Linked DNA regions of Homo sapiens: regions 1 and 3 are each linked to region 2. Evidence: fine-mapped expression QTL. A gene starts in region 2. Each other region holds a variant in brackets. All regions are shown on one strand. Distances are from middle to middle. Region 1 has its middle 29 kb from the start of ITPRID2. Region 2 holds the start of ITPRID2 (ITPR interacting domain containing 2). Region 3 overlaps ITGA4 (integrin subunit alpha 4).

Region 1 (2,768 bases), 29 kb before region 2:
GACTGCCAGAACCTCCTACCTGGCTAGTTAGACTCCTGTGCATTTTGTCTTAGTCTGGGCAACCTCACAACCACCTAAGAAATGAACTGCAGAAAACCTTAGCAGTTCTTAAAAAAAAATTGGGGAAAATAAATTAGCTCTTATTCTAAATTACATTATCTGTTAGTATATTATAGTACTTATATGGTCTTTTCTCTGTTCATATAGGCCTAAAAGATGAATCTTTAAGGATGTAATGAGTATCTGGTGACCATTTTTGTTTGTCTGCAGGTACCTGGCAGTTGCAAAAAGGCTGGAGTGTGTTTGTGTGTGTGTGATTTGGGTTACTTTGGATTGTTTTGCTAAGGTGTTGTTAATGTTAGTTAGGGCCGAAATGAAATTGTCTTGCAAAAAACACAATGATGTCTTAACTGTAAATACTGATCAAACCAAATAAACTCACATCATATGCTATTCCTACCATAAGCAGCAAGTATCTTTACACGGGATGACAGACTGACCACCAGGATTTAAAACAGTTAATAATATCGTCCCATATTTTAATATCTCTAGGGGATCGTTTTACTCATCAAGGGCAGAGTCAGAGGAGGAGAGGGAAAGAAACAGAGAGAAAATGTTAACTGGCCTTACCTAACAAGAGCTGAGCTAGTGTTATCTATATTGTTTCACTGCAAAATTATATGTCTTCAAAAAATGTCCCTGTTCTTAAATGTGAATTTTATTATCATAAAAACCTTTTCAAAGTCCTAATAGGAAAGGTTATCAAAGTGTTTTCTCATTTCTAACCTGAGAAACTAAACAACAGCTAGATAAAATCTGGGAAGTTCTTCAACTGAACCAATTTGCTTAACAGCTGATATTAAATATTTGATTAAAATTTTACTTCTCAAAACTCAGTTTGGAATTGTAGTGAATGTTAATTTCAGAATGTCTCAGAGTAAAGGTACTTTTATATTGTCACTAGATTGGTCTATAGATTGGGTACCCACTAGATTGGGTATGTCTGTTTTCTGAGCTAAAACTGTTGGCATCTGGGAGTTTTGTGAATTCATTTGAAGGTGGAATGGCATATAAAATGAACAATGGAGTGGGAATGTGGGAATAAGAATTCCACTGGCTTCTGGTTCTATTAGCTTTGTCAATAACTAGTTTAGTGAGCTTGAGCAGGTCATTTAACCCCTATTGGCCTTAAAATTTTTCTTTGCAAATGAGGGGCTGAGCTTTGATATCTAAGGTCAATTAAAGCTATGGAATCATGTGACTCTTCCACAAGTTTCTTTCAAAATACACATTGCTTATTTATTTATATCTGAGCCTATCTTAAAGGTTTTACTGGACTTTATCCAATCATAGCTTCAGCAAACAATACGGCCACAGAAAGCCTACTTGCGTCACTTGGTTTTATTTTTTCACGCTCAAACAATACCTGGCAAACAAAAAAAAGGTTTCTGAATTGTGATTGGCACAATGATACATGGTCAGCTGCACTGAGAATTTAGGCAAACTATATACATAGTCAGGGTGCAGAATGAAGGTGAGGGCTGATTTGTAGTTACTTGCATTTGTGAACCAAACAAATGTTGTAAATTGTG[G/A]GTGTGAGACGAATGCCAAAACCCAACAATTTTACTACTCTCCTACTCATTTGGCTTTTCCACTAGAATGCACACACACGCAGCAACATTTTCTGGTTTTCTCTCCTAGATCTTCCATTGAATGTACCACCATAGTCCATGCTTATTGTTTGCACTTCCTTGTTTCCGTGACATTACACAACCTTCTGCCTCTGCTCTCCTTTCCATATCTTAAATTTAGTCATACTACAAGACATATTCCTAAATCTTTTGGTCTTCTGTATTGGATCTCGCTCCCTTAGCGTTTTCTGAACTGCAATTGTCACTAATATGTGGATAGCTCCACAATTTACATCTTTGATCACTTTTATATAGTTTAAAACTAACTTATTATTAACTAATTTATTCAATAGACAGGAGATATATTATGAAAGGATTATTTTAGGTACAATGAAGTATTTGAGAAATTTTTTTTTAATATGTCCTTTCAAGAAAGAAGTGGTATATGATGTGTATCAATTCTTGCTGAATGCTTAGAAGGCATCCACAATTTTGAATAGGACTAAATTAGATATCCTATTTTTATTTTTACTTTTTTGAAACAGGGTCTCACTCTGCCACCCAGGCTGGAGTATGGTGGCACAATCATGGCTCCATGCAGCCTCAACCTCCCATGCTCAAGTGATCCTCCCACCTCAGCCTCCCAAGTACCTGGGAATACAGGCGTGTGCCACCACACCTGGCTCTCTCTCTCTCTCTCTATATATATATATATATTTTTTTTTTTGTAGAGACAGGGTCCCACTATGTGGTCCAGGCTAGTCTCAAACTCCTCTGCTCAAGCAGTCCTCCCATCTCAGCCTCCCAAAGTGCTAAGATTACAAGTATGAGCCACTGTGCCTGGCTCCCACTATTTTTAGAAAGTCAGTAACTCATGATCTTTTATGATTTAGAAGTTATTTAGAGGAAAGAGAATTCAAGAATAAGACTTTTGGGGTTTTAGAATATATTAATTTCTATGTCAAAGAAATCTTGCTCTTGTTTATAAAACATAAGATGCTGAAATACTGCCATTATTTGAAACATGACTGTAGTCAAATTATTCCTCCTCTTATTCTCCAGTACCCTACTTTCCACACCTGTGGCCCAAGTCAGCATTCCTCATCTTTGTTTATGATAATCATCATTGCTGTGGTC
Region 2 (2,768 bases):
CTTGACCAGCCCTTTCAATGCTTCTTCTTAGGTACCTTCTTTATTCATTCTCTTTTTCATCTTCCACACAGGCAGCGAGACTCTGACCTATTTTGGAGAGCCATTAAACTGTTAGCTGCATCCTACTACAGGACCCTTGAAGGCTGAGAAAGTCTTATAGGTTCAAAGAAAAGATTTTCTAGTAGTGAAATTTCAAGCCATAGAGATATTAATATCACTGTTCTAACTCCCCTGACATTTGGCAGTACATAGATGAGACTCAGGAGAATATTATGATGGTTCTGGAAAGCTAGTCTGGATTTTGGATTTGATCTTGGGGATATTAGTAAACCATTAGAAGATGTCTTGGAATTGTAAATCTAGAGCAATGCGCTAGAAAGGAGATAGGAAAGAATGAAGGCAGGAAAATCAGTGTGCTATTTTAGTAGTCTATGACTTATGTGTAAATGCCTGGACAAAAACTAGGCACTATTTCATCTCCAGAGCATTCTTCATTCCAAATTCTCCAAAAGTTATGGTTTCCTGTAGCTATCAATGACAATGCACTTAATTACCTTGTAATTCGAATGCTTCCATTAGGAATTTTACTATGCTCTGGATTTTAATTTCAAATGAAAAATAATTCCTTCCTTAAAATATTTTGTCTACGCAAAATATTCTTTTCAATCACGTTAAGATTTTAAAAAGTGTTCTAACTTGTTCTTCAGAGCATAGCCAAGTACAATAAAATATTGGAAGCCTTACTTATATGTATAGTTCAGATGTAACATTTAGGGGAACAATGCTGCTTGATAGGTCTGTCACATTGTGTCTGGTTTTGGATAGAATTTGAGTATTTTTGCTAATGAGAATTTAAACATAACAAAACGGAATGCCAAAGCTGGCTTTAAAAAGTTTTGAACCCTGACATCATTTGTTTCTTGTATCATGCTGTCTCACCAAAATCCAAGCAACTATCTCCACATTGTCCCAATTGTTTCCTCTATTCTCCCTCACCAAAGTCCAACTTCAATGTGAAATTTCCAGATTAAATATCCTTTCACAATTCATTTTCATTCATAACATAAACACGATAAATAACTTTAAGTATGAAAGTAGCACTCCAGGAAGCTTAGTCTTTTGCAGTTTTTACATTTTGGCAACACCAATCAAGCACCTCTTTCCGTCCTTACCCCAATTCCTTGGACACTAAAGAGTCTATATTCAGGCGACTCTTTCAAGTGTATGTTTCAGGGTGCCCAAGCAGACACTTGTTTTCTCGCGGGGGATGTTTTGTGAGACTTGGCCTCCCCACTTACGTTCTATTTTTAGGTGAGGGAGGAGGAGGAGGAGAGGAGGAAAGATTATTAACAAACTAATCTTGCCCATTCCGCGGGCAGTAGTCGGGGGCTGGCCTGCTCCGCGTCGCGCCGGGCGCGCCCCGCCCTACCGCGCCCCGCGCGGCCCCGGCCGGAAGGGGGCGTGGGCCGCCGCCGAGGGAAGGCGCGCAGACGCGCAGCGGCCGGCCTGCTCCGGGCGCGTCAGGCAGGGGGTGGGGAGCAGGGGCCGGGCGGGCGCTCGGCTCCCAGCCGCGCTCCCTCGGGCCACTAGCGCTCCCGCGCGCGCCCGGCCGCCTTCATGTGAAGCGCCGGCCCTCCGCCCCTTCCCTCCCCTTCCTTCCCTCCCTCCCTCCCTGTCCCCTCCTCCTCCTCCTCCTCCTCCGGCGCCCGCTTCAGCTCCCCGGGGCCCCCTGCCCGGCCGGGCGCTGACAGCAAGGGCGGGGGTCCCTGCCGCCGCCTTGTCTCGCGCAGGGTCCGGCTGGGGTAGCGGAGCCCCCAGTGCGGCCATGGACCGGCCCCTGTCGTCGTCGGCGGAGGCGGAGGAGGAACTGGAGTGGCAAGTGGCGAGTCGCAGGAGGAAGGCCTGGGCCAAGTGCCGCAGCTCCTGGCAAGCGTCGGAGACGGAGGATCTGTCCACAGAAGCGACGACGCAGGACGAGGAGGAGGACGAGGAGGAGGACCTCCCCGGCGCGCAGCTGCCGGCAGCGGGGGGAAGAGGTCGGTGCTCCCGGCCGGGCTCCGGGGGGAGGCTGGTGGGCTGGGGAGAGTCTCGTGCGCCCTGGGCGCCTGCCACGAGTTCTGGGAGAGCCTCGGGCACGGTAGGCCGAGGGGAGAGGGGACACTTCCGACCTTCAAACGCGCGCGCTGAACGAGGCGCCCCCAGCGTCAACACAGACAACTGGGTGCCATCCGATTTCCCTGCCAAGGGACACTGAGACGTGTCGCTTAGGCTGCATTTGCCGTGGTAGATTTTCCTACTTGGGAGGGTCCAGGGTGACTCCGCCGTCGTAGTGCTCCTGGGTGGTAACGTGCTGTCCCCTCTCTCTACCCCCAGGAAACGTGCCCAACGAGAAGATCGCGATATGGCTCAAGGACTGCCGGTGAGTGCTCCCTGGTCCGCCCGCGTCCCGGGGGAGATCCGTGCGGACGGGACGCCGGAGCAGAGCCACTCGGGCCGCGTCCCTGTGGGTCCCGCGACCGTTGTAAGCTACAAACCGGAAAGTGAGCCGGCGGATAGCTTCCTCCTCTAAGCGATTAGAAATGGAAGTGCTGTGACCGCTGATTATTTGGTGACCGTGTTGACTTTACAGTTAGGACTTGAGCTACTCACGCATCGTGTTAGCATCAGAGATCAGAAATCCAGAACAGATAATCATGCCATATTTGTTCTGTTTTTATTTGAAAGAATTCTCACATCTCGAACAGGATATTTTGTTTTGCTTTAGTTTT
Region 3 (2,768 bases), 350 kb before region 2:
CTGGCTTCTTTAAAAGACAATACAAATCTATCCTACAAGAAGAAAACAGAAGAGACAGTTGGAGTTATATCAACAGTAAAAGCAATGATGATTAAGGACTTCTTTCAAATTGAGAGAATGGAAAACAGACTCAGGTTGTAGTAAAGAAATTTAAAAGACACTGTTTACAAGAAAAAATGAATTTTGTTTGGACTTCTTTTACTCATGATCTTGTGACATATTATGTCTTCATGCAAGGGGAAAATCTCAGCAATGATTACTCTTTGAGATAGAAGAACTGCAAAGGTAATAATACAGCCAAAGATAATCTCTCAGCTTTTAAATGGGTAGAGAAACACTAAAGCATTCAATTTATTCAAGAAAAGTAAGCCCTTGAAGATATCTTGAAATGAAAGTATAACTGAGTTAAATTATACTGGAGAAGTCTTAGACTTGAAATACTACTTACCATATGTGCTTGCCTCAGTAAAATGAACCCCACTGGGTGGGCAGAGGTTCATTTCAAATACATCTTTGATACTTGTTCAAAATATGTTCTTTAAAAATATAATTTTTTAGAGAGCTGTTCCCAAATTTTCTAACGAGTGGACCATTATCACTTTAAAGCCCTTTATTTATAATACATTTCCTACGGGCTGTGTTCCAACAACCATTTTTTTTCAGCAGACTATGAATATTATAGTATTATAGGCCAAACTGGCAAACTTCAGACTGAACATGTACACTGGTTTGAGCTTAGTGAAATTACTTCTGGATAATTATTTTTTTATAATTATGGATTTCACCATCTTTCTTTCTGTATATATACATGTGTTTTTATGTAGGTATATATTTACCATTCTTCCTATCTATTCTTCCTATAACACACCTTTATCAAGCATACCCAGGAGTAATCTTCAAATCTTTTGTTATATTCTGAAACAAAAGATTGTGAGTGTTGCACTTTACCTGATACACGCTGATTTAGAAAATACAGAAACCATACCTCACTAATAACTTTAAAATCAAAGCTGTGCAAAGACTAGGGGGCCTATACTTCATATGTATTATGTACTATGTAAAATATTGACTATCACACAACTATTTCCTTGGATGTAATTCTTTGTTACCCTTTACAAGTATAAGTGTTACCTTACATGGAAACGAAGAAACAAAATTCATAAATTTAAATTCATAAATTTAGCTGAAAGATACTGATTCAATTTGTATACAGTGAATATAAATGAGA[C/T]GACAGCAAAATTTTCATGAAATGTAAAATATTTTTATAGTTTGTTCATACTATATGAGGTTCTATTTTAAATGACTTTCTGGATTTTAAAAAATTTCTTTAAATACAATCATTTTTGTAATATTTATTTTATGCTTATGATCTAGATAATTGCAGAATATCATTTTATCTGACTCTGCCTTCATAAGAGAGCTGTGGCCGAATTTTGAACATCTGTTATAGGGAGTGATCAAATTAGAAGGCAATGTGGAAAAACAATTCTGGGAAAGATTTCTTTATATGAAGTCCCTGCCACTAGCCAGCCATCCTAATTGATGAAAGTTATCTGTTCACAGGCCTGCAGTGATGGTGAGGAATGTTCTGAGATTTGCGAAGGCATTTGAGTAGTGAAATGTAAGCACAAAACCTCCTGAACCCAGAGTGTGTATACACAGGAATAAACTTTATGACATTTATGTATTTTTAAAAAACTTTGTATCGTTATAAAAAGGCTAGTCATTCTTTCAGGAGAACATCTAGGATCATAGATGAAAAATCAAGCCCCGATTTAGAACTGTCTTCTCCAGGATGGTCTCTAAGGAAATTTACATTTGGTTCTTTCCTACTCAGAACTACTCAGAAACAACTATATATTTCAGGTTATCTGAGCACAGTGAAAGCAGAGTACTATGGTTGTCCAACACAGGCCTCTCAGATACAAGGGGAACACAATTACATATTGGGCTAGATTTTGCCCAGTTCAAAATAGTATTTGTTATCAACTTACTTTGTTACTTGTATCATGAATTTTAAAACCCTACCACTTTAAGAAGACAGGGATGGGTTATTCTTTTTTGGCAGGTAGGCTATATAACTATGTGATTTTGAAATTTAACTGCTCTGGATTAGGGAGCAGTGAATCAAGGCAGACTTATGAAATCTGTATTATATTTGTAACAGAATATAGGAAATTTAACATAATTGATGAGCTCAAATCCTGAAAAATGAAAGAATCCAAATTATTTCAGAATTATCTAGGTTAAATATTGATGTATTATGATGGTTGCAAAGTTTTTTTGTGTGTCCAATAAACACATTGTAAAAAAAAGAATTTGAATTGATATCTAAAAACAGAATTTGAATTGATATTTCATCTTGACTTTTAAAGCCCTAGAGGCTAATTGTTAGTAACATCAATTTCTATTAGGATATCCGTTTGGCCACACAGCAGGAGGTTAGAGCAATGGAGCATTACTGAGTTCCTCCCCCTGTCAGATCAGCAGCAGCATTAGATTCTCATAGAAGTGCGAACCATATGGTGAACTGGTATGTGAGGGATCTAGAGTGCCATGTTCCTCAAGAGAATCTAATGCCTGATGATCTGAGGTGGAACAGTTCATCCTGAAACCATTCCCCCATCCACGGAAAAATTGTCTTCCATGAAACTGGTCCCAAAAAGGGTGGGGACCACAGGTTTAAAGCATGGCCACATTTCTTTATATTAAAATTCTAGTTTGTACATTTCTTTTAGAAACAATTACATGTTACTTTGGAATCATTT

The links.
Region 1: its variant is fine-mapped to the expression of ITPRID2 in whole blood (TOPMed, PIP 0.97).
Region 3: its variant is fine-mapped to the expression of ITPRID2 in tibial artery (GTEx, PIP 0.95).

The regions. Positions count from the first base shown.
Region 1 is chr2:181,861,652-181,864,419 of GRCh38, forward strand. No RefSeq gene overlaps it. Among named protein-coding and RNA genes, the nearest start is that of ITPRID2, 29 kb to the right of the region's middle. The variant G/A (reference allele first, on the strand shown) is at 1,593.
Region 2 is chr2:181,890,242-181,893,009 of GRCh38, forward strand. It overlaps ITPRID2 (ITPR interacting domain containing 2), which reads left to right and starts at 1,489. Exons shown (of 18, transcript NM_001130445.3): 1 at 1,489-2,036; 2 at 2,374-2,419. The coding sequence starts at 1,826. RefSeq lists silencers at 1,366-1,695, 1,986-2,125.
Region 3 is chr2:181,535,433-181,538,200 of GRCh38, forward strand. It overlaps ITGA4 (integrin subunit alpha 4), which reads left to right. Exons shown (of 28, transcript NM_000885.6): 28 at 1-2,768. The coding sequence ends at 95. CERKL (CERK like autophagy regulator) reads right to left here. Exons shown (of 13, transcript NM_201548.5): 13 at 1,240-2,768. The coding sequence ends at 2,752. Among named protein-coding and RNA genes, the nearest start is that of ITGA4, 79 kb to the left of the region's middle. The variant C/T (reference allele first, on the strand shown) is at 1,229.